Linked DNA regions of Homo sapiens. The protein of the gene in region 1 purifies or fractionates together with the protein of each later gene. This does not show direct contact. Each region holds a gene or a part of one and is shown in the gene's direction. Other genes may lie near its edges. The genes, in order: ARMC8, ZCCHC2, MSI2, DEK, CHM, NATD1 and LONP1.

Evidence for each region.
Region 2: the proteins of ARMC8 (region 1) and ZCCHC2 purify together in Homo sapiens (affinity purification with mass spectrometry; 2 studies listed by BioGRID and IntAct, with this or other methods). This does not show direct contact.
Region 3: the proteins of ARMC8 (region 1) and MSI2 purify together in Homo sapiens (affinity purification with mass spectrometry, with the first as the bait; one large-scale study listed by BioGRID). This does not show direct contact.
Region 4: the proteins of ARMC8 (region 1) and DEK purify together in Homo sapiens (affinity purification with mass spectrometry, with the first as the bait; one large-scale study listed by BioGRID). This does not show direct contact.
Region 5: the proteins of ARMC8 (region 1) and CHM purify together in Homo sapiens (co-immunoprecipitation; one large-scale study listed by IntAct). This does not show direct contact.
Region 6: the proteins of ARMC8 (region 1) and NATD1 purify together in Homo sapiens (affinity purification with mass spectrometry; one large-scale study listed by BioGRID and IntAct). This does not show direct contact.
Region 7: the proteins of ARMC8 (region 1) and LONP1 purify together in Homo sapiens (affinity purification with mass spectrometry; 2 studies listed by BioGRID and IntAct, with this or other methods). This does not show direct contact.

What each region holds. Positions count from the first base shown.
Region 1 is NC_000003.12:138,193,553-138,197,692, forward strand, and holds part of ARMC8 (armadillo repeat-containing protein 8), read left to right. Parts: intron 1-4,140. UniProt on the Homo sapiens protein: Component of the CTLH E3 ubiquitin-protein ligase complex that selectively accepts ubiquitin from UBE2H and mediates ubiquitination and subsequent proteasomal degradation of the transcription factor HBP1.
Region 2 is NC_000018.10:62,560,567-62,564,706, forward strand, and holds part of ZCCHC2 (zinc finger CCHC domain-containing protein 2), read left to right. Parts: intron 1-20; coding exon 21-78; intron 79-2,442; coding exon 2,443-2,578; intron 2,579-4,004; coding exon 4,005-4,069; intron 4,070-4,140.
Region 3 is NC_000017.11:57,612,654-57,616,793, forward strand, and holds part of MSI2 (RNA-binding protein Musashi homolog 2), read left to right. Parts: intron 1-3,316; coding exon 3,317-3,431; intron 3,432-4,140.
Region 4 is NC_000006.12:18,247,355-18,251,494, reverse strand, and holds part of DEK (protein DEK), read left to right. Parts: intron 1-1,655; coding exon 1,656-1,844; intron 1,845-4,140. UniProt on the Homo sapiens protein: Involved in chromatin organization.
Region 5 is NC_000023.11:86,037,283-86,041,422, reverse strand, and holds part of CHM (rab proteins geranylgeranyltransferase component A 1), read left to right. Parts: intron 1-4,140. UniProt on the Homo sapiens protein: Substrate-binding subunit of the Rab geranylgeranyltransferase (GGTase) complex.
Region 6 is NC_000017.11:21,243,008-21,247,147, reverse strand, and holds part of NATD1 (protein NATD1), read left to right. Parts: intron 1-2,923; coding exon 2,924-3,042; intron 3,043-3,718; coding exon 3,719-3,835; 3' UTR 3,836-4,140.
Region 7 is NC_000019.10:5,699,423-5,703,562, reverse strand, and holds part of LONP1 (lon protease homolog, mitochondrial isoform 1 precursor), read left to right. Parts: intron 1-2,635; coding exon 2,636-2,774; intron 2,775-4,140. UniProt on the Homo sapiens protein: ATP-dependent serine protease that mediates the selective degradation of misfolded, unassembled or oxidatively damaged polypeptides as well as certain short-lived regulatory proteins in the mitochondrial matrix.

The sequences.
Region 1 (4,140 bases):
ACCGTGCCCAGCCAAAAGCTCTTTATATGTTTTAAATCTGAACCCTTTGTAAGATAGGTATTTGCAAATATTTTCTCCTAATCTGTAACTTGCCTTTTCATCCTCTTAACCACAATTTAAGATGAACCTTGATCTCATACCTTATACAAAAAGTAACTCAAAATGGATCATAGATTTTATCATAAAATAAAACTTTTAGAATAAAACAGGAGAAAATCTGCAGAACCTTAGGTTTGGTGAATAACTTTTAGACATAACACCAAATGCATTACTTATTAAAAAATTGATAAATTGGACTTTACCAAAATGAAAACTTACGCTCTGTGAAAGACCCTGTTAAAAGGATGGTTGCATTTAATTTTGGTCACTTTGTAATGGTAGAGAGGTAAGGTAACAAATTGTCTTTGAATCACTTTGTAGGCTATTATAAACAGCTGGGCACTTGTTGATTTTTAATTGTCTTCTTTACAGTCCTTTCCCAGTGGCATTACGTCTTTTTTTTTTTTTTGAGACGGCGTCTCGCTCTGTCTCCCAGGCTGGAGTGCAGTGGCGCGACCTCAGCTCACTGCAACCTCCGCCTCCTGGGTTCATGCCATTCTCCTGCCTCAGCCTCCCGAGTAGCTGGGACTACAGGCACCCACTGCCACGCCCGGCTAATTTTTTGTATTTTTTAGTAGAGACAGGGTTTCACTGTGTTAGCCAGTATGGTCTCGATCTCCTGACCTCGTGATCCGCCCGCCGCGGCCTCCCAAAATGCTGGGATTACAGGCGTAAGCCACTGCGCCCAGCTTTTTTTTTTTTTTTTTTGAGACGGAGTCTCTGTCGCCCAGGCTGGAGTGCAGTGGCGCGATCTCGGGTCACTGCAACCTCCGCCTCCCAGGTTCACACCATTCTCCTGCCTCAGCCTCCCGAGTAGCTGGGACTACAGGCACCTGCCACCACACCCAGCTAATTTTTTTGTATTTTTAGTAGAGAAGGGGTTTCACTGTGTTAGCCAGGATGGTCTCGATCTCCTGACCTCGTGATCTGCCCACCTTGGCCTCCCAAAGTGCTGGGATTACAGGCGTGAGCCACCGTGCCCAGCTGTCATTATTTTTTTTTTTTTGAAAAATAGCTGTTAGAACTGTATAGGGTATTCCAAATCTGGATATTCCTTCATTTTGTTCTGTTCTCTACAGTTATAAGCATATTGTTGGCCTTGCCTATAGCTACTTAATGATTTATTCTCTTACATCCATAACTGGCAATAATTAGGAAAAAAAATTGCTGTGAAGTCGAACCCACTATCCTGTAAACATAAATTTGGCCTCCCTAGGTTTTTAGTAATAAATGCAAAATAAAATCTGTACAGCACATTTTAAAGTTTGCCATTAGTTTACAAAGCACTAATAAGTACAGGGTATGTCAGTAGGTGGTCCTAAAATAAATTCATCAGTAAATCGCCAGGTGCAGTGGCTCACACCTGTAATCCTAGCATTTTGGGAGGCTTGGGCAGGTGGATCACCTGAGATCAGGAGTTCGAGATCAGCCTGACCAACATGGTGAAACCCCGTCTCTACTAAAAAATACAAAAAAATTAGCCAGGCATGGTTGCAGGCGCCTGTAGTCCCAGCTACTCGGGAGGCTGAGGCAGGAGAATGGCGTGAACCCGGGAAGTGGAGCTTGCAGTGAGCCGAGATTGCGCCACTGCAGTCCGCAGTCCGGCCTGGGCGACAGAGCGAGACTCCGTCTCAAAAAAAAAAAAAAAAAGAAACTATCTCAAAAAAATAAAAATAAATTCATCAATGAATCAATGTGAACTTTCTAATCTTTAATGGCAGTGTGTGAAAAATGAGAGGTGCTCATTGTATGTTTCTGGACATCTTGCTGTGTATTTAAGGAAAGACTAAGATAGTGCATGTTCAGGAAGTCTTTTAAACTCTGCAAAGAATCAGAAACACATTTATGTAGGGTCTTCAGATTTTACTTTTGAGACCTAGCCTTCTTATCACCTCCTATTTTCGCTAAATTTTAAAATACTTACTGTCAGCAGACAGGAATGTCAGTGATTCTGACTTGTATGTTTTTCAATTCTGATTTGGCATTTGTTTTGCAGTACCATCTGTCCTGTTGGCTTCTGGGTAAAGAGACGGTATTACATGAAAAAAAACAAAGCTCCTATTATCCTCTAGAAATTGGAGAGCAGCTGCCTTCACTGAACAGTAGTGCTATGATCCCTGGGACTGTTGAGATAGAAATTAAAGGTATTGCAAATAAGAGCAGTTTTACAGAAATAGCCCCCTGCCCCACCACTTGTCATTTTGTTGAAAAAAAAAAAAAAAACTGTTTTGACCACATTCCCTAATTTCAGAGGAATGAAGAGTTACATTTTCTAGCATATTCATAATGTAGGTATTAGAGGAAGGAGGAATGATGAAACAGTGTAAGGCTTTATATTAAAAATAAAAAGTTGTGGTCCAATGGGGAGTTTTCAACCTATAAGATCTATTAATATTGGGAGGTCTTTACCACCTGGAAAGTAATTATCGAACACATGCTTCTTTTGCCTTAGGGGTGTTTTTAAGAATTTCTTAGGCTTTCAGAAAGCTAATGGTGATTGATGGGATAAGGGAGACTAAGGAAAAGGAAAGAGTCATGATGATCATTATGATAAAGCATGATTCACAGGATTTATGCCTTTTTGGCCAGGTGGTATCATCTTCTGAGACGGTGAGAATTAGGAGAGGAATTTGTTAGGGGAGTAAGTAGGAAAATGAGTTTCATTTTGGACATGCCAAATTTGTAGTCAGTTGGAAAAAAAGGTTGAGTACCTAAATCTGGGGTCATGATCATTATTTTGGCATCATCAGTGTATTGATCTCTGGTTCTTAGCTGTTTAAGGATGAGAATCTCAATACCTGCTTTCCCAGGAGAACATGCATATGCCTAAATAGTTGCATAATTTCTAGAGATTGCTGGATTCCCTGAAACCCAGAAGTCACTCCAGAATTAACTTCTTCACCTGTCCCAGTGTGAGTCAAGAAAATGTAGCAAAAGCCAGGCACGGTGATTCACGCCTGTAATCCCAGCACTTTGGGAGACTGAGGCAGGTGGATCATCTGAGGTCAGGAGTCTGAGACCAGCCTAACATGGTGAAACCCCGTTTCTACTAAAAATAAAAAAAAATTAGCCAGGTGTGGTGGCGCACACCTGTAATCCCAGCTACTTGGGAGGCTGAGGCAGGAGAATTGCTTGAACCCGGGAGGCAGAGGTTGCAGTGAGCTGAGATCGCACCCTTGCACTCCAGCTTGGGCAACAAGAGTGAAACTCCGTCTCAAAAAAAATTTTTTTTTAAGTCATTTAAAATCATTTTGGAATGGTAAAGATTGTAGCAATAAGGTATTAAAACTCATGTGAGCTATTATGTGTGGGAATTGTTTCTGAAGAGCTACAATTTTTTACCCAGAGTATGCCAGTAATCTCCTAGAAGGTGTACTTTGTTCACAGAAAGGGCATTGTGTAGCAGGCCTGGGATGCAAAGCTAGGTTATCTGGAGATCCAAACAAACTACAAAGTAAGGTGATTGTGGGTCTGGACACAGGCAAAGTGGAATAGACAGATTCGAAGTGGCCTGCGATATTGCCGTGATTGTCACAGGCCACAATGTGGGTGACAGGTCAGGTCTGACAGATCTTGAGTGGTACTGTAATAGGAAAGTGAATGCACCAGCTGCTGCAAATGATGGGCTGAGTCTGAGGCAAGCACCATGGATAGCTCCAAGGCAGGGCTATTACTGCCTGTAAGAATCTGAAGCAAATAAAGCCCTTTTTTATCAGGAAGGCGCCTGGCCTGTCTGAACAATACTACTTCGAAGGTGTGCCATGAAAGATGGTACCCAGGATCTCTAAGTAATTACATGACAGCAATTTTGAATAATAATTTCAACTATTCTTATGGGCCAGGACAACACCTCACCCATATCTGAATAGCCTCACTTTGTTATGTGAGGATTGAGAAGTTGGCATTTAAATACATCCTAGTGGACTTCTTGGGTCATCTTATCACCTTGGGAGGCATATAAATGAACCTCAACCAATCCAGAGGATATCTCAGTCTTTGTGAAACTCCTGATCATTTTTGTAACCTTGCATGTGCTTTCCA
Region 2 (4,140 bases), on another chromosome or scaffold:
TACTTTTTCCTCTCTTCTAGATGTGTTGCAGCATGCCATAATCCACAAGAAGCATACTGGGAAAAGTCCCATTGTGAAGTAAGTATCCTCTTTCTAAAACAAAAAGTGCTTTGGTATGTTTTAAAATCAATGTAACATTTAATTAAATTTCTGATGTATTTGGCTATAATTCTGTCATTTTGCTATTTGCTTTTTATTTCTTCACTTTTTCTGTTTCCTTTTCTCACTTTTTTTGCCTCCTTTTGGGTTGTTTTTCTTCTGTGGTTTTTTTTTGTTTTGTTTTGTTTTGTTTTCCCCTATCATCTTTGATAGTTTTACAATGAAAGTTCTTCTAGTGGCTACCCTAGAGATAATATTACATATCTTTGACTTATTAAAGTTGGATATTTGTGCTTGTACTGGTCCCAAACAATTTGAGGACCTTAGATTACTGCAACATCATTTATTTCCCCCTAACTTGTAAGCCGTGGCTGTCATGCATTTTAATTCTCTGTATAATTTTAAATTCCATGAAACCTCTTTGTAGTGTTTGTGTACTCATTCCTTCCTGTGTCTCTGAGCATCCACCTATGATCATTTTCCTTCCAACTGAAGAACACTTGAGTATTTCCTATAGTCACATCGGCCAGTGATGAATGCACTCAAATTTTTATCTGGAAAAAATGTTTATTTTGCCTTCATTTTTACAAGATACTCTTGCCACATGTGGACTTCTAATTGGGCAGTTACTTTCCGTGAGCTTTTGAGAGCATAGTTTCCTTATCATCTGGTTCTCCCTTTATTTCCTTGCATCTTATTCTCTCCACTCACCTCCAGTTTCTCCTGCAGATCCCATAAAACCGTCTGTGATTTCTTACTCATACCACATTAGCGCTGTGCTCCTCAAGTATGAGCCGTGACTTTCCATGTTCCGCCTTAGGGCCTTTGCTGCTCACACAGGAGTCTGCCTCCATCCTTTTTGGGTCTGTCATTCTGGGAGGGCCCAGAAGCTCGGAGCTCCTGATGCTTCCAGCCTCCACTGTGGACTCTTCATTGCAGTCCTTCGCCATTTCATCCTCTCCACTCCCTTGCTCCTGCTTTTTGGGATCACTTCCCAAATAAACTCTGTTATGCTGGACTCTGATTTTGAGAGGAACTCACACTTAAGTCATCTGGCATCCAGAGTTTCAATCGGTCTTACTGCTGCTCTTTTGAAGATAATACGCATTTCCCTCTGATTACTTTTAAGGTTTTGTTGTTGTCTGGTTTTCAGCAGTTTTCCTAGCTTCCTTTGCATGAATTCTTGAATCTGTAGCTTGATGTCTTCTGATTTTAGAAAACTAGCTTTTTACTTCTTCAAATATTTCTTCTCCGCTTTTCTCTTGCTCCGTCTTCCAAGACTCCAAATCCTTGTATGTTAGATTTTTCACCATGTCCCGTGGTTTTTTTTGTTTTTGTTTTTGTTTTTTGAGATGGAGTCTCGCTCTGTCACCCAGGCTGGAGTGCAGTGGCGCAGTCTCAGCTCGCTGCAACCTCTGCCTCCTGGGTTCAAGCGATTCTCCTGCCTCAGCCTCCCAAGTAGCTGGAACTACAGGCACCCGCCACCATGCCTGGCTAATTTTTTTTTTGTATTTTTAGTAGAGACGGAGTTTCACTATGTTGGCCAGGATGGTCTCGAACTGCTGACCTCAGGTGATCCACCCACCTCAGCCTCCCAAAGTGCTGGGATTATAGGTGTGAGCCACCGTGCCCAGCCGTCCCATGTCTTTTAAGCCTTTTTTGTTTTTCACATTTTTTTCAGTCTCAGTGCTTTAATCTGTTTTCTTCCGACCAATTTTTTCTTCATTGATTTTCTTCATCTGTTTCCCCTTCACTAATTTTCTCCATCTATTTCCCATTTGTTGAGTTTGTAATATTAGTTTATTTTATAAGTTCTATAATTTACTTTTTTTTTCTTTTCCAAATTTCTCTTCCAAAATCCTCAGTATTGTATTTGTCAACCATGTTAAGCACTGTTACCTGAAAGTCTGTGTCCAATAAGTTTATCATCTGAATTCTGCTGGGGCCTATTTCTCTTGTCTGTTTCTTTTGGTTTTTGATCTCATTATCCTGTTCCTTCATGTGCCCAGTTACTTAAGTGCTCATGACAGCAGTGCTCTCAAGATGCAGGTTGTATAAGCCTCTCTGTCCCAGCTGTAAGCAGTGTATGATGATCACCATCGCATAGTGTCTAAAAGCAGAGTGTGCAGCTGTTACTACTCTTTTTAGAGACAAGTATTAATGATAAATAGATGTGTAGTGGTTTATTTCTCATAGTATACTTTTTTTTCTTAGACCTATCATTAGGCATTCCTTGAAGAAACTAATATATTGAAGAAAGGGTTACTGTAACTTCTTTGTTGAAATGAAATAGGTTATTATTGAGGGCAGATTTTCACACTTTCATAAACTTTTCTTTGGTAGCAATATTGGTACAAGTTGTTCTCCATTGGATGGGCTTACCATGCAATATTCTGAACAGAATGGAATTGTGGATTGGAGGAAGCAAAGCTGTACCACCATTCAACACCCAGAGCACTGTGTGACCTCGGCTGACCAGGTGTGTGGGGAGTTTGTTTTGGAGCTATATAGTTAAAGCATTGCTCCTCTATAAGAAAAAAATTAAGTTCTGTAAGCTTTCAGTCAGACAGTATATCTGGTAAGAAATGAAGGAATGTTTAAGTTTTAGACTTTATACTTATATATGATCTAAGCTCTTCTGAGACCTGAAAATGTGTATTTAGATTACTTTTATTGCTTGTGTAAGATTAGTACACTTTAATATGACACCTTCCCAGGCGCCATGGGTCACGCTTCTAATCCCAGCACTTTGGGAAGCTAAGGCAGGAGGATTGCTTGAGGCCACCCATTTGACCAGCCTCGGCAACATACTGAAACCCTGTCTGTATAAAAAATTTAAAAATTAGCTGAGTGTGGTGGTACACACCTGTAGTCTCAGCTACTCGGGAGGCTGAGGCAGGAGGATCACCTGAGCCCAGGAGTTCAAGGCTGCTGTGAGCCATGATCACACCACTGTACTTCTGCCTGGGCAACAGAGTGAAACCCTGTCTCTAAAAAATAAATTTAAAACAAAATAAAAATTTTAAAAATAATACCTTCACTGTTTAACAAAGGTGTACATCAGATTGTTATGCCAAAATTTTTTGGTCTTGAAAGAATTAGAATTCAGATTTCAATCACTGCCTTGCTATTTGTGATAGAAATTTTCCAACTGACCTTTCTTCATGAATATTTGGGTCAGTTTATTGACACTTCAGAATGCATTAGGGGATGTTTGCTTTCTTAAGATTTGGGTGTGATCAGAGAGCAGAATGCTGTTAAGTATGTTTCATGTCGTATGGCCTCGCAGATATGGGGGGAGGTCCCTGTGTATATGTTACAAGTATGGAATGAAACTTCTCTCTAGAAAATTGATTCATTAACCCGATGTTGTCCCTGGCCAACGCTCAGATCCAAATGTTAACTCTTCTTGGAATGTGTTTTTATGCATTAAAGCATATTCTGAGAAATTATAAATAGTTTTAGTCATAATTAGTGACCTATTTTCAAAGCCCGTCTGAGTTTACTTTCCCTCCCCTACTCCAGTGCCTGCACCCTCTCTTCTTAGAGTTGACGTAGTTAAGTGTTGACAGTTATATGGAATTGTACTTGAAGAGAATAGTAGTAAACCTACAGCAAGTGCCAGTCACTTGATTGTGTTTCATTTTATAGTCAGAAAAAAGAATGTAGGTCCATTTTCAAAGAAAAATAGAAAATAATACTGTATTAATCATGAGGAAAATATGTAAGTGTCACAGAATATGTAAATTTTAGTGGTTCAGGTGGGAAACTTCAAAAATAGGTTGGAAATCAACACTTGTTAGAATATACAACTGGGAATCTATCATTTTAATGTTTATTATGAGAGTAAAAACGTCAAAATGGTTTAGCTTTTGTCTGATTTGTCTTTTTATTCTTTCTACTAGCATTCTGCTGAAAAACGGAGTTTATCTTCAATAAATAAGAAGAAAGGAAAGCCACAAACAGAAAAGTAGGTTCAATTTAAGGAAAGACAGCATATAGCCTTTGATAATAGGCCTGTTTAGTTTATGATAGTATACA
Region 3 (4,140 bases), on another chromosome or scaffold:
CTGTCAGCCCTGTTCAGTGAGAGGAAGAGTAGGTGGGTTTGTTTAAAACACTCCCATTACAGTCAGTTAACCTTTATGTTCCCTAAATGAAAATTGTATAAACCTGAGATTTCCGTTGATCGGGTTGCCTAGGAACAGGCAGCAGGTTTTCATAAGACAATGCAGTAGATTGTCACCGATAGGGCTATTAGGAAGTGAGCTGGTTAGCGGTATTATTCCCCTTGCTGGTGTTGGCTTTGGGTAATTATCTGTCTGCCTGTGCGAGACACGCCCATCTTCCTAGGCTTGGGGCAGGTTCATGCAAATGAGATTTCTCAGCCTGCTCCTCTGGAGTCCTGAAGCCAGTTTTCACCCCTGGGCTTAGGAGAGAAACCTAAAAGAGCCAATTTGGATGAGTTTGTTGTTTTCAATCACCTTTCCCCCCTACCTGCAATGACAATATTCTAATAGCCCTATCAGTGACAGTCTATTGCATTATCTTACAAAAACCTGCTCCCTGTTGCTTAGCAGAAAGCTTAGAAAATAACTAGCAAAATGCCCAATTAAAATTTAAAAACAGAGTGATTCTAAGACAACTTTAGTATGTCTTTTCAGTATTTTTCCCTATATGATATATGCACTTGTTTATTTTTCAAAAAGTCAGTGACATTTGCTGTTTTCCCGCTTGCAGTTAAAGAAACCCATCATCCTGGTTTGCCTGGGACTGAGGGGTTTCCCAGTACCAGTGCATGATTATTATCAACACACTTTTTCATAGCTGCATAGCATTCAATCAGTGTGGATAATCCAAACTCAGCTAATTCCCTGTTCTTCTATATTTTAGGTATTTCCTTTTATTAAAAAAAAAAATTCTAATTCCGGTAGGGCAAATTCCTAGAGGTAAGATTACTAGGTGTATGTATAAATTTATGGCTTTTGATGTAGTGTCTGGTTGCCCTCCAGAAAAATACGTGCCAATTTCCACCCCTCCACACTATACCGTCAGAAACCCTTACATCAAACAATGCTTTCATCACTGTCAATCTGTGGGCAAAAAATATGCTTCATCTTGGGGAATGTGTTCTTTATTAGCCGTCTGTGAATTGTCTACTCCTGTCTTTTACCCATGTCTGTTTTGGGATGCTCATCTCTTTTAATCTATAGAACTCTGTATTAAGCATATTAGTCATGAATGTTGAACCATTTTGTCCACTTTTTAAGGCATTTGTGGTTATTCTTGAAAGAGCAAGAGTAATACCTGTTGTCCGGTGTCTTTGAAGAAAGGTGACTTATATCTTAGGTAATTATAGCATCCCCCTAACCTTGAGCACTAAAATATTTTTTGATTGAAGTATTTGGGATGTGAGTATCTCCAAAATGGATAACCCATAGAGGTTCCTTTTTTATTTTCGTTTTATTTATTTTTTTTATTTTTTGAGATAGAGTCTCGCTCTGTCGCCCAGGCTGGAGTACAGTGGTGCGATCTCGGCTCACTACACCCTCCACCTCCCGGGTTCAAGCGATTCTTCTGCCTTAGCCTCCCAAGTAGCTGGGATTACAGGAGCATGCCACCACACCTGGCTAATTTTTTTGTATTTTTAGTAGAGACAGGGTTTTGCCACGATAGCCAGGCTGGTCTCGAACTCCTGGACTCAAGCAGTCTGCCTGCCTTAGCCTCCCAAAGTGTTGGGATTACAGGTGTGAGCCACCACGTCCGGCCTAGAGGTCTCTGTTTAAACAATGTATATTGCACACAGTTTAACTTTTTCTTGCTATCTCAGGCACACCTGTGAACAATAGCAATTTTCTGTGTTACAGTGATACCTCAGCAGCTGTTGAACTATGTAGAGCTTTTGTTCCTATACCATATGGCCCAGACTGCTCTTTAAATAAGATACCTGTTTCTTGTCTTTTCTCCGTCATTTAAATAAGATACCTGTTTCTTGTCTTTTCTCCGTCACTATCAGGCGGCCATGCTGTTTCTTTTGGCTGTTAAAAGCATCCGTGCCTTACCCTGCAACATCCCATCTTCATCAGCAGTGGGATTGATGACTGGCTAACAATGCTTGTTAAATTTCTCTGTAAACAAAAAGCAAATAAGTGCTAATAAGCACAGGCCTAAGGCGCTCTGGTAAAACAGTGAAGGAGCTTCCGAGGGCCACAGTTTTACTTATTCCCTGAGGTTTATAGTTCGCATAGTTAAGGTTATTAAATAAGTGACCTCTGGGTATACAAGCAGATTAGCATGAAGAAATTTGAGAGTCAGAAGGGAAACAGAAAGGGGAGATTAGCAACCACTTGAAAATGTAGCTGCAAATGAGAAACTAGTAATCCAGATGAACAGAATCAGTGTTTAATCTTATTACTTCCCTCAGGAGTGTGGTGGTGGTGTAGGTTTTGTGGAAATGTGGCATTGCTGACCTAGAAATTCTAAAGATCTGGTTTGTAGGCCTGAACCTGTTGGGGAGGGCTTTCAGCATGTTGCACAAGAATTTTTTTTTTTTTTTTTTTTTAAGACAGGGTCTCGCTGTGTCACCCAGGCTGGAGTGCAGTGGCGTGATCATGGCTCACTGCAGCCTTGACCTCCCAGACTCAGGTGATCCCCCTACCTCAGCCTCCCAGGTAGCTGGGACTACAGGTGTGTGCCACCACACCTGCCTAGTTTTTTGTATTTTTTTAGTACAGACGGGGTTTCACCATGTTGCCAGGCTGATCTGAAACGCCTGGGCTCAAGCTGATTCACCTGCCTCCACCTCCCACAGTGCTGGGATTACAAACATGATCCCCCACGCCCAGCCAACACAAAACTTCTGATGCTCTGTTTTCTCATCTGTGAACTGGAGCTAAGGCTAAGTGGTCTGTCTGTTTAATAAGAGTTTGAATCAGATGGCCTGGCATGAAGAGTCACTGGCCTGAGAGAATGTCAGGGGCATTTGTAAATGTGTAAAGGGCTGAAAAATCCTGAGGGATTATTATTATTGCTATTGTTGTTATTATTCACAGACACATCCAACAGCCATTGTCTGCCTCCTTATCTGTCATGCTTTCTGCACGAGCGTCAGCCTGAGCTTCAATCTGTGTGTATATCTGCAGCTTACGTCCTTGCCACCCCTCCAGAACCCAGTTTCATCCTTGTAGGTTTTTCCGAAGCAGGATTTGCACAAGTGGCGTGTTTTCTTAAGTATTTATTTTGCAGGCCATTTACTCGGCATGGCTATTTTTACAGTGGGTAAGGAGCAAGGCTAAAAATAACTTAGCTCATAACCAGACAGGTTCTGCATTTGACATTTACGTGGAATTCATTTGCATCTCATTTGTTCGCCTTTCTGTTTAACAGGTAGAATGTAAGAAAGCTCAGCCGAAAGAAGTCATGTTCCCACCTGGGACAAGAGGCCGGGCCCGGGGACTGCCTTACACCATGGACGCGTTCATGCTTGGCATGGGGATGCTGGGTGAGTCTGGACAGGACCGCAGGTCACCATGGACTGGGAGGGCTATGGAGGCCTCTACTCCCAACTGGGTCACCTACCAGTGGGGCAAACTGCTTCACCTTTCTAAGCCTCAGTTTCCTTGTCTGTAGATGAGGATGATAATTCCCCGTTCCAAGACAGTTGTGATGATTAAGTGTGGGTGTGTGTGTGTGCATGCATGTGTGTGTGTGTGTGTGTGTGTTTGTATTTATAATATTGCCCCATGCCTGGCTTATAGGATATGTTAGACTATTTTCTCTCTTTTCCATCTCCTTCCTCAAAAGAAGGAAAAGTCCCCCTCTATCTGCCTCAGCCCTCTCATCTGAGTGGGAGTTCTTAAGATGTAAGGACTCCTGGCTGACTTGACTTGTGTGGGCTAAGGCTACGTTTTCTAAAACTTGGGAGAGGAGGGAAGTGGTAAGGGTGGGCGATAATCCTGTCTATTTAAATGATTAACATTTTTCTCTTGGGATATCAAAATTTGCATTTAAATGGATGTTTTAAATAGCCTGTTTTACTCTTTATTTGCCAAAAAAAAAAAAAAGATGAAAGACAAAGTGTGTTTGTTCTGACTAAAAATGATTTCTCCTGGCTTTTAGAGAAATTGAGTTGCATATTATGTCCCTTTCCTTAAAAGTATCTCTGTCCGTCCTGCGTAGATAATTGAAAATCTTACCGCTTAAATGGCATG
Region 4 (4,140 bases), on another chromosome or scaffold:
AGGGTACGTTGTTGGAGCAATCTAGGTTATCCTGTGGTTTCTTTGCAGAGAGCTCAAGAGTACCATATTATACAAAGCAGCCACTTTTTCTTAATTTTTGTGTAGGTGACAGTGACCCCTAGACTGGAGGTTCCTGGGAGGTAAAGGACCTGTCGTTCTAGTCTCTGCAAGAAAAATATTGCCTAAAGTTATCACAAACATTTACACAATTGGATACCTTAAGGTTATGTTATGGAATTTTACCTTAATGTTTCTGCTTATTGCAGAAAATAAAGTAACAAAGGTAGAAATAAAAGAATATAAAAGATGCTCAATCCCAGAAATAAATATTAATTCTGTAATGCGCATTTTAACATTCTTGATGTTAGGTAATTTTATGGTTTTCAATTTTAGAATTTAGCAAAACTTCCTTGAGAAAGCACTTAAAAATTAAATTTATTGTTTACTGTAATCAACTCATTTTCATCAGGTGATCTCTGCTTTTAATATACATGGTTTAATTGATTATCAGAATAATAGCAGCATATTCTTAGTTTCATAATTAACATACTTATCATTTATTGTATACTTATAGGCATCAGTGATAATATGAGCCTGACATTGTTGAAAGTAGAGGCCAGAAGTAATGAATATAAACCGTATAGTTCATTCATAAATTCAGGATGTATAATTGGTAATAAAGTTATACATTTTTTTTATGGGCCAGGCGTGGTGGCTCATGCCTGTATCCCAGGACTTTGGGAGGCCAGGGTGGGTGGATCACTTGAGGTCAGGAGTTTGAGACCAGCCTGGCCAACATGGTGAAACACTGTCTCTACTAAAAATACAAAAATTAGCTGGGCGTGATGGTGCATACTTGTAATCCCAGCTACTGCACAACAGAATGAGACTCTGTCTCAAAAAAAAAAAAAAAAAAAAAAAAAAAAGGTTTTTCTCCCATTCCTTCGATTGGAGTGTTGGGCCTTCTAAAGCAAGGAGCTTCTTTGGCAGTGACAGTTTTTTGTTTTTTGCTTTTTGTGTTTTTTTGAGACGGAGTCTCACACTGTTGCCCAGGCTGGACTGCAGTGGCGCGATCTCGGCTCACTGCAAACTCTGCCTCCTGGGTTCACGCCTTTCTCCTGCCTCAGCCTCCCGAGTAGCTGGGGCTACAGGCGCCCGCCACCACGCCCGGCTAATTTTTTGTATTTTTAGTAGAGACGGGGTTTCACCGTGTTAGCCAGGATGGTCTCGATCTCCTGACCTCATGATCTGCCCGCCTCGGCGTCCCAAAGTGCTGGGTTGGCAGTGACAGTTTTAATGCTTGTAGGGATGAAATAAATTACAAATCTAACTTAAAATATTATCATGACAAAGTATTAACAGCCGTTGGAGCTTAACATAATGTGTCTTGAGCTTCTAGTCCCATGTCAGAACCTAGAATACATATTTCTCTACAATTGAGAAGGGTCTTGCTAGGTGTTTAGAACACAAATGGTATTAGTAACACAGTTTTAGGTTAACCTGACACGGTTAAAGATTATTCTCTGCAAAGCTGCTGGGCTTGTAAATACAATTTCTTGAGAGAGGAATAAGAAATTGAGTTGATAAGTTTTCAAGAAGAGAATTGATTGAAATATTATACCTCATTGGTGTTATCTTTATAAATTTTTATGCAGCCATTGCCGAAATCTAAAAAAACTTGTAGCAAAGGCAGTAAAAAGGAACGGAACAGTTCTGGAATGGCAAGGAAGGCTAAGCGAACCAAATGTCCTGAAATTCTGTCAGATGAATCTAGTAGTGATGAAGATGAAAAGAAAAACAAGGAAGAGTCTTCAGATGATGAAGATAAAGAAAGTGAAGAGGAGGTAAAATATTTTACTATATTTTTAAATCATTTCTTTCCATGGGGAGAGTTAAATATTTCTGCTATAAGGTACAGCCAGAAAACACTTCCTTATTGGTTGTTTTTAATTCTGAAGATGCAGAAATGATTAAGTATGAACCCATTTCTTTTCCTTAAAGAGCTTTTAGTTTCATTACCATGTCAGAGTATGAGTCAGAAAAGAGTGAGGTTGGTGTGGACTGGATTTGAAGTGGGCCTTGAGCTGGACGTTGAAGACTAGAGTAGATAAATGGGAAGGGAAGCGGAAGTGGTGCATATCCTGAATAGGACCACATAGGAGCAGATTCTTCGAGGATTTTTTTCGTAATATATTGATACTTTATAATTGACTTGGATCATTTTATTTTACGGAAAAAGCAAGGGACTTAAGGGCCTTTTTCCCCCCCTCAACCTTTAGGGGACTATGTAGTGAGAATAAACAGCATTTGAAGTTTATATAATGAGTGGATAAATTTTGTATTACCTGTCATTTTCTTTTATTTGGGAGTATTTGTAAAAGTTGAGACTCTTAGTTTCCAAAGTGAAACTTCATGAAGAAGAGAACTGCTGAAGCAGTTAAATAAGAGGGTTAACCTCTTCAGTCAGGTAGATCATGGAGAGTGGGTACAGGAGATGGGTTTCTATTATTGTTAATGATGTTTTGGTAGACTGTATTTTAACTTTGATGTTTTCGTTCAAAGGTTGGAACTTGCTCTATAGATTGGGTAATCAACCTTGCCTTATTTAGGGACTTGGATAATGTCAACTTGACATTTTGGACCAGATGATTCTTAATTGTGGGTGATATTCCCAAGCTCCCCTTGTGACAACCAAAAATGTTCTTCAGACATTGTCAAATGTCCCTGGGGCGAGACAAGGAGGGAATCATCTCCACTGAATTAGAAGGAATAAAGATATAGTGAACTCTGGTATTATATGATATGTGTGGGTGTTTAGTATGTATGTTTGTCTTGAGTTATTTACAATTCATGCTTGTTTTAGCGTCAAATTTTATAAAGACTTCTATAAAGCTAAGTATGAAATGCTTCATCATTTAAGAAAGAGGGTTACGAATCTAGTAGGTGCTTCATAAATATCTTAATATATATTTGGCACAAAGGAAAATAAGTAATCTGAGCATTAAGGTCTTTATGGATTGGATATCCGGGAGGAAAACATGTTTGTTTGTATGTATATATATAACAGTGGAAATTTTTAAACTGATAGTATCTTCATTCAGGAAATATTTGGTGTCTACTGTGTGCCATTCAGATTCCTAAACTCTCTTTATGGGCAGAGTTAAAGCACGAAACATTATCATAGAATATAAATGTCTAATTTTTTCATAGAGACGTTAGCATGGGCTCTGGAAACTGAGTTCAAATCTGACCTCTATATTGGATTATTACTGTATTAGTATAAGCAAGTTATTTAAACTATACCTCAGTTTCCCATCTGTAAAATGGGGAGTGATAATAGTATTAGCCTCATAGGGTCATATTAAAGGATTTTATTTAAAATACTTAGAGCGGTGCCTGGTGCATATAGTATGTAAGTATTAGTTGCTATTATTATTAGAATTAAAATGATGTTTTATGACAAGTAAAACTTCTAAATCGAATCTTCTTGTCATTACTAGGTGCAGGTTAAAAAGTGAGGGCAGGCCGGGCATGGTGACCCATGCCTGTAATCCCAGCACTTTGGGAGGCCGAGGTGGGTGGATCACCTGAGGTCAGGAGTTCGAGACCAGCCTCACCAACATGGTGAAACCCTGCCTCTACTAAAAATACAAAATTAGCTGGGCGTGGTGGTGCATGCCGATAATCCCAGCTACTCGGGAAGGCTGAGGCAGGAGAATTGCTTGAACCGGGGAGGCAGAGGTTGCAGTGAGCTGAGATCGCACCATTGTTCTCCAGCCTGAGCAACGAGCGAAACTCCGTCTCAAAAAAAAAAAACGAGAGCATTTTATACTCACTTTTAAAATTCGCTTTCTAAATTGTTGTCCCATAGTTCTGTAGAGGTAGTTGAACTTGGTGTATGCAGATGATACCTGATTTATACCCATATTGGTTCCAGGATAATAATCACAAGTGGAACCATCTCACTATAAATCAAACCTTTACCTTCTGTAGTGCCCTAATCTAGGGTCTGTGACTAGAAACCCAGGTCAATTGATGAAAATCCATGGGAGAAGAAAATGTAAAAATGCTTTCAGACATTAGGTGTATGAAATCACACAATATAAAAGCTATATCATATTTTATTAGAGGGATTTTTTT
Region 5 (4,140 bases), on another chromosome or scaffold:
AAAGATAGCCTGCAGATTTTGCTGTTCTGAAAAATGCTTTGCACTTCTTCAGGCATTTATTGATGGAAAAGTATGTTTTTGTTTGCTTCCAATACCTAGAAAAGTAAAGAGTTATCTAACTCTGGAGAAGACTCTCTGGGAGATGCTTACCCTTCTCTGTAAATCATGAATTTGAGCCAATACCTCAGAGAGAGCCACATCTGTTGCCATAATTTCCTCTGCAGCATCATTTTCATCTCCCATGCCTCATGTCATTTTTCTCATTTTCTCCAGTGTTTTCATGATGTTTTGGATAACAGGCTACAGTAATTAAATTCAAATATGGCAGCCCACCATTACATTCTCATGTTTAACATAAAATCCCAATGCACAGAAACAATTATAATTCCATATAATTGACCTGTTAACTCATGCTAAATCATCTGCTATTCAGTCTCAGTGCATTCTTTAACTAAAAAGTTAGTCTGTGCCTGTTCTGTATATAAATATATTTAAAAGTAAAATAGGCTAAAAATCACTGTTGGTGCTCATTGGAAACATTTTGGGGGCGTTTAGTTGTGGCCAGCAAAATAGGGATACATTGAAAGGTTGATGTTTTGTTTTTGCTTTTCTAATAATTTCATTTAAGGTTTGGTGTAAAAAGAGTTGATAATTTATCACAGATACTGCTTTTTTAGAGCATGATTATGAGAGCTAGCATGTTATCATATTGAGGGTGTTTTTGAAAAGAACAGTTTGCAAACAGACAGGAGAAGAGACCAGAGGCAGCTTGGCCAGTATGGTGCTTAAATAAGTGTTTCATCTCATACTGGATTTTATCAGGAGCTGAAGTTGGTAATGTATTCCTTGACTGATTTGGTTTTTATCACATTTTAAAAAGTACTGGTGAAGCAGGATATTTTCCTGACCCCTTCATGGGACTTGTGAAGGGAGCACCCTGTTTACTCAGCCCACCGCTTTCAACTCCTCATAGGAGGGAGCACGTGAGTGAACAAGGCAGGAACTGGAATACATGAGTGCTGGAGTCAGCCTGCCGCTCTTGTGCCAGGAGGAATGAACTCCACTCACTCGGACCTGCTGTGTTTCACCCCTCACAAGAGGGGATGTGCAGTTGAGTGGGTGCAGGAGCCGGGGCGAGTGCTTTTGGGCACTGGCAGGAGTCAACTCTGTGCTGGCCCTGTGGTAGCATCTCCGGGGGTGGTGCCTGCAACCCCTGAAGCTCCAGAGGGAATGTTACAGTGCTCTTTTAGCTCTGCTGTCCGCAGACGGCTTAAGGGTTAACAGCTCAGTGGGCCCTCTGCCTTTTTGTGTTAATCGGCTGCCTTCTACCAGTGAGGGCAAAGGGCAAGTGTGACAGCCTTTTTGTGTCCACACTCATCGTTCCCGAGCTCTTGTCCGGCATCCAGGAGAAATGAGGTCACATGAATGAATTGAAGGATGGTAAATGTAGGGGATCTTATTGCTGATGGAGATGGCTCTTAGTGGGAAGGGGAGCTGCAAAGGGCAGGAAGGTAGTCTTCCCCTGAATGCCAGCTGTCTCTGGCCAGATTCTTCTTCGAAGTTACGCTGTCAAGGTGTCCCTCTGAAGTCGAGCCACTTCTCTCTGATGTCCAGCTGTAGTCTCTAATGTCCAACTGCTTCTCTTCTCTCTGCTGGCTGAGCCTGGGGTTTTTATGTACACAGGATGGGGTGTGGGGTGGGCCGTAAGTGGTTTCGGAAAAGGCAACATTCGCACGGGAAAATGGGGATATAAGTTCTCACTTTGCGTCATGGTTTCAGGCTTGAGGGTGGGGTTTTCTCAGGGACCTGCCCTTTTCTGCCTAGAATTTCCCTGCCTCCTGTCCCTGTCACTCACTAACTTCTACTCTTTCTTTTGAGTATTCTCACCTGTCTTTTTTTTTTTTTTTTTTTTGGTCTAGGCCAGTGTTCTCATTGAGTTATTATGGCTACTAGTTAATGGTGGTTTTAATCATTTTATATTGCTTTGAAATGTTTTGAATCATGTTTCTGTGATCTGACTTTGCACATTTGTTAAACTAGTCTTATTTATGTGGATTTAAAATCATCATGAGAAAATTTACACAAGCTAAAGTATAGAGAAAAAGTTTTACACATGGATATGAGGCATATTAAGAAGATGCTGAGCTGTGAGTTCAAATCCTTATTTTCTACACCTGTGTTACTTTGGTTTAAGCTATGTAAGCAAAATCAATGATAATTAGAAAATTGTTTTTAGTACCTACAACACACTGTCAAACACATGAAAAATATTGTCTAACATTTGTTATATGCCAAGCACGGTGATAAGCCCCTACAATGCATTGTCTCATTTTCACAGTAACCCTGCAGTAGATACTATATCATCTCCATTTTTCAAATGTGAAGCCTGAGGCTCAGCTAAGTTTGATGTAGGTGAAACAGTTAAGACGAAAGTTTTTCTGACTAAGGTTGAGGTATTAGATTAAGTTTGCTAGAATCTTTCAATTGAAAAAATAGCTCATAGTATCAAGATGAGATTATTTTAACCTGGGTTTGTGGTTGGCAGTTGTTTTATTTTGGAGAGTTATCATTGTTGACATTAAAATCCTGATTCCAGCAGTAACCTCATGATGTCAGCTTCTTATTATTGACAGCATCATGACATCTGTGTCAGCTTGCAAACCTTCTTTTGATGAAGGTGAACGGAATGACCTGGTTGTGTTTATCCCTTAAAACTGAAGAGAGAATCAACCACTAAAGCAATGGCCAGAAATGGGATCAGAGATTACAGTTACATTTTAAGAAATGATTTGCTTCAGTAGGAATTCTTCATTGATCCTGTAAACCAAAATAATTTAGATTACCAAATTAATTTAGAAAGTTTATTTTACCAAGGTTAAGGATGCACCTGTGGCACAGCCTCAGGTCCTGATGACGTGCCCCAGGCGGTAGGGGCACAGCTTGATTTTACATGTTTTAGGGAGACATGAAACATTAATCAACGTTTGTAAGATGTATAATTCATTGGTTCCATCAGGAAAGGCCAGACAACTCGAAGTGGGGAGGAGGCTTCTGGGTCATAGTTAGTTAAGAGACAAATGAGGAATAGTCACTTATGCCTTAGTCTGTAGTGAAACAGTAGGGCGGAGGAAGCCATCAGATACGCATTTGTCTCATGGGAACAGAGGAATGACTTTGAGTTCTGCCTGTCCTTTGGTTGTCCACAAGGAATTTCCTTATGGGCAAATTGTGAGGGAGGTATGTAGCTTTTTAAAAATCTTTGTAGTGATCTTATTTAGGAATAGAAAGGGAGAGAGGTTTGCCCAACACAATTCCCAACTTGACTTTTCCTTTTGGTTTAGTGATTTTGGGGAGATTTGTTTTCCTTTCACAATCCCAAGGTACATAATTTCCCACTGAAATACTTGTGCATGTGCTGGGGTTTGCCATTTTGTGTCTTTTTTAGTGTTCTTCCAAATTAAATTTTCAAGATCAAATATGGGACTCATTGTCCTGTTTATGGAGCTTTTTTTCTTTTGGTTGACTATTCTTTTGTTTCCTACAGTCTTCAACAACTGTTAGTGCTTACAATGGATACATCATGCATCTTAATTGATAGGATGGATATGATAATACCTTTTTTGGTCCAAGGTCCCGCTCATTAAAAAAAATAGTTTATAAAGCTGAAAAGTTTTTATTTCTATTTTTTGTAAAATGATTTTCATGATAGGATTTTATATAAAGGGGAAGGGTTTTTTGTATCATTTTTATAACATTTTTGAAATGAATACTTATTCTCTTTCATCATCTATTTTAGACTCACAGTTTTATGAGTAATGCAGTAAAGGTCATGTGGCACATTAGTAAAATATGTTCTGAACACAGAAACTATTCTCCTTATCACAAATTAAATTTTATGTTAAGTTTGAAGAGCACTGGCCTGGGGTATACTTTGCTGTGAAAAGATCATTTTGGTCACTTAAATTACAATAGAAATATTTGTGTTAAGAAAATTAAGTAAAAATTAGGCTGGGCACAGTGGCTCACACCTGTAATTCCAGGACTTTGGGAGGCCTAGGCAAGTGGATCACCTGAGGTCAGGAGTTCAAGACCAGCCCAACCAACACAGTGAAACCCTGTCTGTACTAAAAATACAAAAAT
Region 6 (4,140 bases), on another chromosome or scaffold:
TCCCAGGGTCAGGTCCATCCATGGCCCAGGTGGCTACTCCAGAAACACTGACGCAGGGTGTGCACAGAGGAGTAGTAATGAGCTTGCCAGGCTTCTTGTATCCACCTCCCTGCTCTGCAGAGACTGCTGGAGCAAAAGCTGAGGTTTTTTTGGTGGCTTGCAGGGCCCTGTGTGGTCTGGCCCCAGGATCTCTGACTTGGTTTCCCAACCCTCACTCCCGGCTTGTTTGGGCCCAGCCACTCTGGCCTCCTTGCTCTTCCTTCAACCTCCTACCCCAGGGCCTTTGCACGTGCTGTTCTCACCAGTGGGCGGCTCATACCCCACATGTCCTTTGGGGTCCTTGTATGCCCTCTTTACAGTGGCAGCCCTGCCCCTCCCCACCCCTCCTCTGCTGTATAGTGATCCTTGGCACCTGTCAGCTTATCACCTGTGTGGCCTCTGTGATGTATGTATTTATTTAGAGACAGGGTCTCACTCTGTCACCCAGGCTGGAATGCAGTGATAACAATCATATCTCACTACAGCCCCAAACTCCTGGGCTCAAGTGATTCTCCCGCCTCAGCCTCCCAAATAGCCGGGACCATAGGTGTGTACCACCATGCTCAGCTTTTTTTTTTTTTTTCTTTTTTTTTTGAGATGGAGTTTTGCCCTTGTTGCCCAGCCTGGAGTGCAATGATGCGGTCTCAGCTCACTGCAACCTCTGCCTCCCGGGTTCAAGTGATTCTCCTGCCTCAGCCTCCCAAGTAGCTGGGATTACAAGCACCCGCTACCATTTCTGGCTAATTTTTGTATCTTTAGTAGAGATGGGGTTTCACCATGTTGGCCAGGCTGGTCTCGAACTCCTGAACTCAGGTGATCCACCCACCTCGGCCTCCCAAAGTGCTGGGATTATAGGAGTGGGTCACCGTGCCTGGCCCCTGTATTATTTATAATGATATTACTTATTGTGTGTCTTCATCAGTACGTAAGATCTCCATGAGGAAGAGTTTCATCAGTTTTGTTCGCTGCTGCCTGCCCTGCAGCCCAAACCCTACTGGGACACAGTAGGCCCTCAATGAGCCTGGGGTAATTAAATGGCCAGGCTAGGTAGGCAGCTCCCTTGGTGACGGAGTCAGTCCCAGAATAGCCTCCGATCTCTGCTCTCCTGTCCTGGGTGAGTTGAATTAACCCCAGCAGGTGGGGAGCCAAGAACCACATCCCTTGCTGTGCAGCCAGGACAGGCGGCAGTGGCCACAGCTGGGCCTTGGCCAGGGTGGCAGGCATAGTCCACAGAAGGACAGTCAGGCCCACAAGGAGGAGGCAGCAGGGCTGGTGTGGGGGCGGGGCTGCAGGCATGAGGGGAGTGGGGCTGGGGAACCCTCAGCTGGGCCTGGCAGGAACGGAGAAAGGGCATCAGGCAGAGGGAAGTGCCTAGGCGATGGCGGGTGCAGGAAGTAGCAGGTGTGTCGGTGGAGCAGAAAGAATGGCTGTGGCTCAGGACCTGCAGGCCTGGGCTCCAGCGTCATCTTGGCCTGCTGTGTGACTTGGATCCCTGCATCTCAGTAGTTCCTCATCTGGAAATGGGGAGATGAATTGTAGCCACTCTCCTGAGGCTTTGGGGAGAATCAAAGGAGATACCAAGAGCCAGAAGGCCTCCTTGCTGCCGTTGGCCCCAGTTCCGGTGGCCCTGGACTAGTGGTTGGACCTCTTGGCCTGTCAGCCTTCCCCTCGTGTTGCCCAGCACAGGCTTTAAGGGCAGATTTTCTGGGGCTTTGAAGTTAAAACTCATGAAACACAGCATGATTTTAAAGAGTGAATCACATCTGTCCCTTTGCTGAGGGCCTTCTAGTGGCGCCCAGCTCAGAAGGCTTAGGAGGCTCTGCAGGACCTGCCCTATCACCTCCCTGCCCCCATCTCTGCCCTTCCCCTCACCCACCCCACTCCAGCGGCCCCTCATTCAGGCCTACTCCTGCCTCAGAGCCTTTGCACTGGCTGTTCCCTCTGCCCAGAACACTGTTCCCTCAGAATGGCTGGTGCCCTCTCCTTCCTGTCTTCACCTGCCCCCATTCCCTGGCATCCTACACATCACTTGCTTTTCATGTTTATTCTCTTTCTCCCCTTCCGGTTTCATGGGGGTAGGACTCCATGTCTAGCTTGTTTGTTGCTATACTCCCAGCATCTGAAACAGTACCTGGGGCTCAGGAAACATTTGGTGGATGGATAAGTGGATGGGTGGGTTGATGGATGGGTAGGTGGAGAGACAAATAGATGAGACACTAAAAACTGTGATTAGGAAAAAGTTCAGTTAATTGTTTGCCCAGCAGCAGTTTGGGGTGGACTGGTGAGCTCCAGGCTTGGCAGGCCTGGTGGAGTGTGAAAACCCGTTTGTTCCTGCCTCCTGTGCCCAGCGTCAGTTTCTCATGAACTCTACCACAGGCCTCTGATCTTTCCTGCTGCGTCTCTCTCAGGGTCCAGCAGGTGGTCCTGATGCGTGGCGCAGCGCTGCCTCTCTAATCTCTTCATGCTCTGCCTTAGTTGCAGATTTGCTGAGCCCTGTTCTGTGTCCAGTGCTGGGTTCTGGGACTCCCAGATCCAGGGATGTGGTGGGGTGGGGATGCAGGGAGCAGGGCTACAGAAAGGGGTGGCAGGGCCCTGGGATGCTAGGACTGACGCAGTAGCAAAGGTTCATGTGGGGCTCAAGTGTTCTAGGCATGGCTGTAAGCACGTCACAGAGGTTACCTCATTTAATCCTCCAAACCACCCTATGAAGGACATTTTATTGTACCTCCACTTTATGGATGAGGAGACTGAGGCACTGAGAGGTTATTCAGGATTCAGCTGTAGCAGCTGAATGACTCCAAATGCCTGTCCCTCCACCCGTCTTGGTGCCTGAGTCCGCTGGGATGGGAGTCAGCATAGGCTTACCTGTCTCCACAACCCCCAGGATGTCATGACCGGGCCGTCCTGCTCTATGAGTACGTGGGCAAGCGGATCGTGGACCTGCAGCACACCGAGGTCCCAGATGCCTACCGTGGGCGTGGCATCGCCAAGCACCTTGCCAAGGTAGGGCAGGCAGGTGGCAGGGCCAAGCGGGGACGGGGACATGGGGGCTGCCACCTTCGCTCCGAGGAGACGGTGGCCCTGGTGGCCACTTCAGCCTGCTTCTTGGCCCTGGGTCCTCTCTGGGCCAGTGGCCGCCTTTCTGGGCCCAGGCTCCTGTTCTGCAAGACCCTGGCGTGGCTGAGCCTCCAAGATCCTCACACACCTCCTGTGTGGCAGGTGCTTCACAGGAGCCCCATTCCTGCCCCCAACCCCTTCATCCTCAGGGCATCCCAAACCCCAGGCTGCCTGGAGAGCAGGTTTGGGCTTAATGAAGGGAGTTACAGCCAGAGCAAAGAATGACCGTCACTCCCCTGAGGGCTGCTGCTGGGACTTAGCTGGGCCGTCTGCCGGCTTCCCCTCCTCCACCCCCACCCCGCCAGGAGAATTGCAGGGCAACCTTTGTCCTCCATGCTGCCTGGGGCAAGGGGGCTTGTAGGGGAGAGGTGATGTGTTTTTTCCTTGTGTACCGGACCAGTCTGTGGGGATCATCCCAGGTGACACTGAAACTCAAGGGAGTTACTGACCTGGGCAAAGTGGAAGGGTGGCCAGGGAGCCGGGCCTGGGGAGGCAGCAGACAATGCTACCTTCTGGTGCCGGCTGCAGGCCCTGACCACTCTCCTCTCTGCCCGGCTCCCAGGCCGCCCTGGACTTCGTGGTGGAGGAGGACCTGAAGGCCCATCTCACCTGCTGGTACATCCAGAAGTACGTCAAGGAGAACCCCCTGCCGCAGTACCTGGAGCGCCTGCAGCCGTAACCCTGGCCTGCAGGCGGGAGCGCTCCCTGCCGGACTCTTCCACGTGGCCTTTGCCTGGCCCCACGTGCTCTCAGGAACCTGGTCCCACTGGGAACAGACTCAGAGTTATTTTTGTAAGGACACTCATCTGTGCCCCACGTCCAGATCCCTGGAGGCAGCTGACCAATGATGGGCGGTGACCCGGTAACCGAGGCGGCAAGGAGGCCAGGTAGTCCCGGCACCTCTCACTCTGCAGAGACCAGCGGCTTCGTGGGAGGCCTGTGGGTCACACGTAGGGGCTAGAGCCAGCCTGCATCCTGCCCACC
Region 7 (4,140 bases), on another chromosome or scaffold:
GCCGTCCTCCTCTTCATCCTCTTCCCCAATCCTGCCGTGTGCTCTTGCAGCCCTCACTGACTTGCTCCTGGCCCATAGTGGCCGCTGCTCACTGCTGCACGGCTCCCAACTTGGGGACCAATATGGAGTTGCCCTCCCAACCTTCAGCGTCACTCTCCCGGCAGGGGACCTGGCCTCCATTTCCCCACCTGCCCTGGGTCAGGCCTTGTCCCATTTTCTAAGCCTCGTCCCCTCTGTGGTTCTGCTCACTCAGCCCTGGGCAGAAGCCAGTGCCGTCTTGGCTCTCCTGATGAGTCAGCAGTGGACCTCCGGCCATCTCCTCCTTCCTGCACTGGGTGCTTTGGACAGGGCAGTTTGTAAATTTTTTTTTTTTTTTTTTTTTGAGATGGAGTCTCACTCTGTTGCCCAGGCTGGAGTGCAGTGGCACGATCTCGGCTCACTGCAAGCTCCGCCTCTCGGGTTCATGCCATTCTCCTGCCTCAGCCTCCCGAGTAGCTGGAACTACAGGTGTCCGCTGCCACGCCCAGCTAATTTTTTTTTTTTTTTTTATTGATCATTCTTGGGTGTTTCTCGCAGAGGGGGATTTGGCAGGGTCATAGGACAATAGTGGAGGGAGGGTCAGCAGATAAACAAGTGAACAAGGGTCTCTGGTTTTCCTAGGCAGAGGACCCTGCGGCCTTCCGCAGTGTTTGTGTCCCTGGGTACTTGAGATTAGGGAGTGGTGATGACTCTTAACCAGCATGCTGCCTTCAAGCATCTGTTTAACAAAGCACATCTTGCACCGCCCTTAATCCATTTAACCCTGAGTGGACACAGCACATGTTTCAGAGAGCACAGGGTTGGGGGTAAGGTCACCGATCAACAGGATCCCAAGGCAGAAGAATTTTTCTTAGTACAGAACAAAATGAAAAGTCTCTCATGTCTACTTCTTTCTACACAGACACGGCAACCATCCGATTTCTCAATCCTTTCCCCCTTTTCTATTCCACAAAACTGCCATTGTCATCATGGCCCGTTCTCAATGAGCTGTTGGGTACACCTCCCAGATGGGGCGGCTGGCCGGGCGGGGGGCTGACCCCCACTCCTCCCTCCCAGAGGGGGCGGCTGGCCAGGCAGAGGGGCTCCTCACTTCCCAGTAGGGGCGGCCGGGCAGAGGCGCCCCTCACCTCCCGGACGGGGCGGCTGGCCGGGCGGGGGGCTGACCCCCCCACCTCCCTCCCGGACGGGGCGGCTGGCTGGGCGGGGGGCTGACGCCTCCACCTCCCTCCCGGATGGGGCAGCTGGCCTGGTGGGGGGCTGACCCCCCCCCCAACCTCCCTCCCAGACGGGGCGGCTAGCCGGGCGGGGGGCTGACCCCCACTCCTCCCTCCCGGAGGGGGCGGCTGGCCGGGCAGAGGGGCTCCTCACTTCCCAGTAGGGGCGGCCGGGCAGAGGCGCCCCTCACCTCCCGGACGGGGCGGCTGGCCGGGTGGGGGGCTGACCCCCCCACCTCCCTCCCGGACGGGGTGGCTGCTGGGCGGAGACGCTCCTCACTTCTCAGACGGGTCGGTTGCCAGGCAGAGGGTCTCCTCACTTCTCAGGGCTGCCGGGCAGAGACGCTCTTCCCCTCCCAGACGGGGTCGCGGCCGGGCAGAGGCGCTCCTCATATCCCAGACAGGGCGGCGGGGCAGAGGCGCTCCCCACATCTCAGATGATGGGCGGCCGGGCAGAGACGCTCCTCACCTTCCAGACTGGGCAGCCAGGCAGAGGGGCTCCTCACATCCCAGACGATGGGCGGCCAGGCAGAGACGCTCCTCACTTCCCAGACAGGGTGGCGGCCGGGCAGAGGCTGCAATCTCGGCACTTTGGGAGGCTAAGGCAGGCGGCTGGGAGGTGGAGGTTGTAGCGAGCCGAGATCACGCCACTGCACTCCAGCCTGGGCACCATTGAGCACTGAGTGAACGAGACTCCGTCTGCAATCCCGGCACCTCGGGAGGCCGAGGCCGGCGGACCACTCGCGGTTAGGACCTGGAGACCAGCCCGGCCAACACAGTGAAACCCCGTCTCCACCAAAAAAATAGGAAAACCAGTCAGGCGTGGCGGCGCGCGCCTGCAATCGCAGGCACTCGGCAGGCTCAGGCAGGAGAACCAGGCAGGGAGGTTGCAGTGAGCCAAGATGGCAGCACACAGTCCAGCCTCGGCTCGGCATCAGAGGGAGACCATGGAAAGAGGGAAAGGGGAGACCGTGGAAAGGGGAGAGGCAGAGGGCAGAGGCAGAGGCAGAAGCATTTTTTGTATTTTTAGTAGAGACAGGGTTTCACCGTGCTAGCCAGGATGGTCTCGATCTCCTGACCTTGTGATCCGCCTGCCTCGGCCTCCCAAAATTCTGGGATTACAGGCGTGAGCCACTGTGCCTGGCCTGTAAATTGTTTTATAGAGATGGGGTCTTGCTGAGTTGCTCAGGCTGGTCTTGAACTCCTGGGCTCAAGTGATCCTCCCACCTGGGCCTCCCAAAGAGCTGGGATTACAGGCGTGAGCCACCGCGCTCAGCCCCACACATGGGTTTCAAGCCCCTTGCAACCACCCAGCCAAGTCCAGCAGAGAGACAGGCAGCTCGTGAGCTCCACTCAGCATCTCTCCATCTGTCCCCTGGCAGTGTCACCCGCAACTACCTAGACTGGCTCACGTCCATCCCTTGGGGCAAGTACAGCAACGAGAACCTGGACCTGGCGCGGGCACAGGCAGTGCTGGAGGAAGACCACTACGGCATGGAGGACGTCAAGAAACGCATCCTGGTGAGCCCAGTGTCTGGCCTGTTGTGGATTTGCATGTGGGTGCCCGGGCCCAGGACTCTTGTGTGCTGTGGGTTGAGATTTCAAAGGAGCCCCCTGGTGAATTCGTAGGCCTGGGGGTGCTGGTCGGGGGGATCCCGGCGGAGGTAGCATCCTGCCCTGCCCCCGAGGGCTCGAGGATTTCCCAGGTGGACTGAAGTCATGCCTGACGGGCCGGGCATGGTGGGGCTGCTTGTAGTCCCAGTTACTCAGGAGGCTGAGGCGGGAGGATCACTTGAGCCCAGGAAGTTGAGGCTGTGGTGAGCTGTGATCATGCCACTGCACATCAGGTTGGGTGACAGAGTGAGACCCCCATCTCTACAAAAAATTTTAAAATTGCGGCTGGGCGCTGTGGCTCATGCCTGTAATCCCAGCACTTTGGGAGGCTGAGGCATGCAGATCACCTGAGGTCGGGAGTTGAAGACCAGCCTGACCAACATGGAGAAACCCCATCTATACTAAAAATACAAAATTAGTTAGGCGTGGTGGCGCATGCCTGTAATCCCAGCTACTTGGGAGGCTGAGGCAGGAGAATCGCTTGAACCCAGGAGCCAGAGGTTGCAGTGAGCCCAGATCGTGCCATTGCACTCCAGCCTGGGCAACAAGAGTGAAACTCCGTCTCAAAAAGGAAAAAAAATTTTTTTTAATTAGCCTGGTGTGATGTTGCGTGTCTGCAGTCCCAGCTACTTGGGAGGCTGAGGTGGGAGGACTGCTTGAGCCCGGGAGGTGGAGGCTGCAGTGAGCTGTGATGCACCACTACACTCCAGCCTGGGTGACAGAGCGAGACCTTGTCTGAAAATTAATTAATTTTAAATTAATTTTTAAAATATCACTCCTGAGACATTGGAAACCAGGCAGGCAGGTGGGAGTCAAAGGTTAAAAAACAGGAGTCAGAGCCTGGGCATGGTGGCTCACACCTGTAATCCCAGCACTTGGGGAGGCCGAGGCGGGTGGATCACAAGGTCAGGAGTTCGAGACCAGCCTGACCAACATGGTGAAACCTCGCCTCTACTAAAAATACAAAAAAAGTAGCCAGGCATGGTGACTCACACCTGTAATCCCAGCTACTCAGGAGGCTGAGGCAGGAGAATTGCTTGAACCCAGGAGGCTGAGGTTGCAGTGAGATGAGATCGCACCAGTACACTCTAGCCTGGGCCACAGAGCAAGACTCCATCTCAAAAAAAAAAAAAAAAAAAACAGGAGCCAGAGGCATTGGTGGACTGCTTCTCTGGGTTGGACCGGAGAGAGTGGAGCATTTGCGGTCTTCAGGGTCCCGGGAACTGCTGAACGGGCCTGGCACTGCCGGGTGGCCGCGGTCTCCTAGCACCTA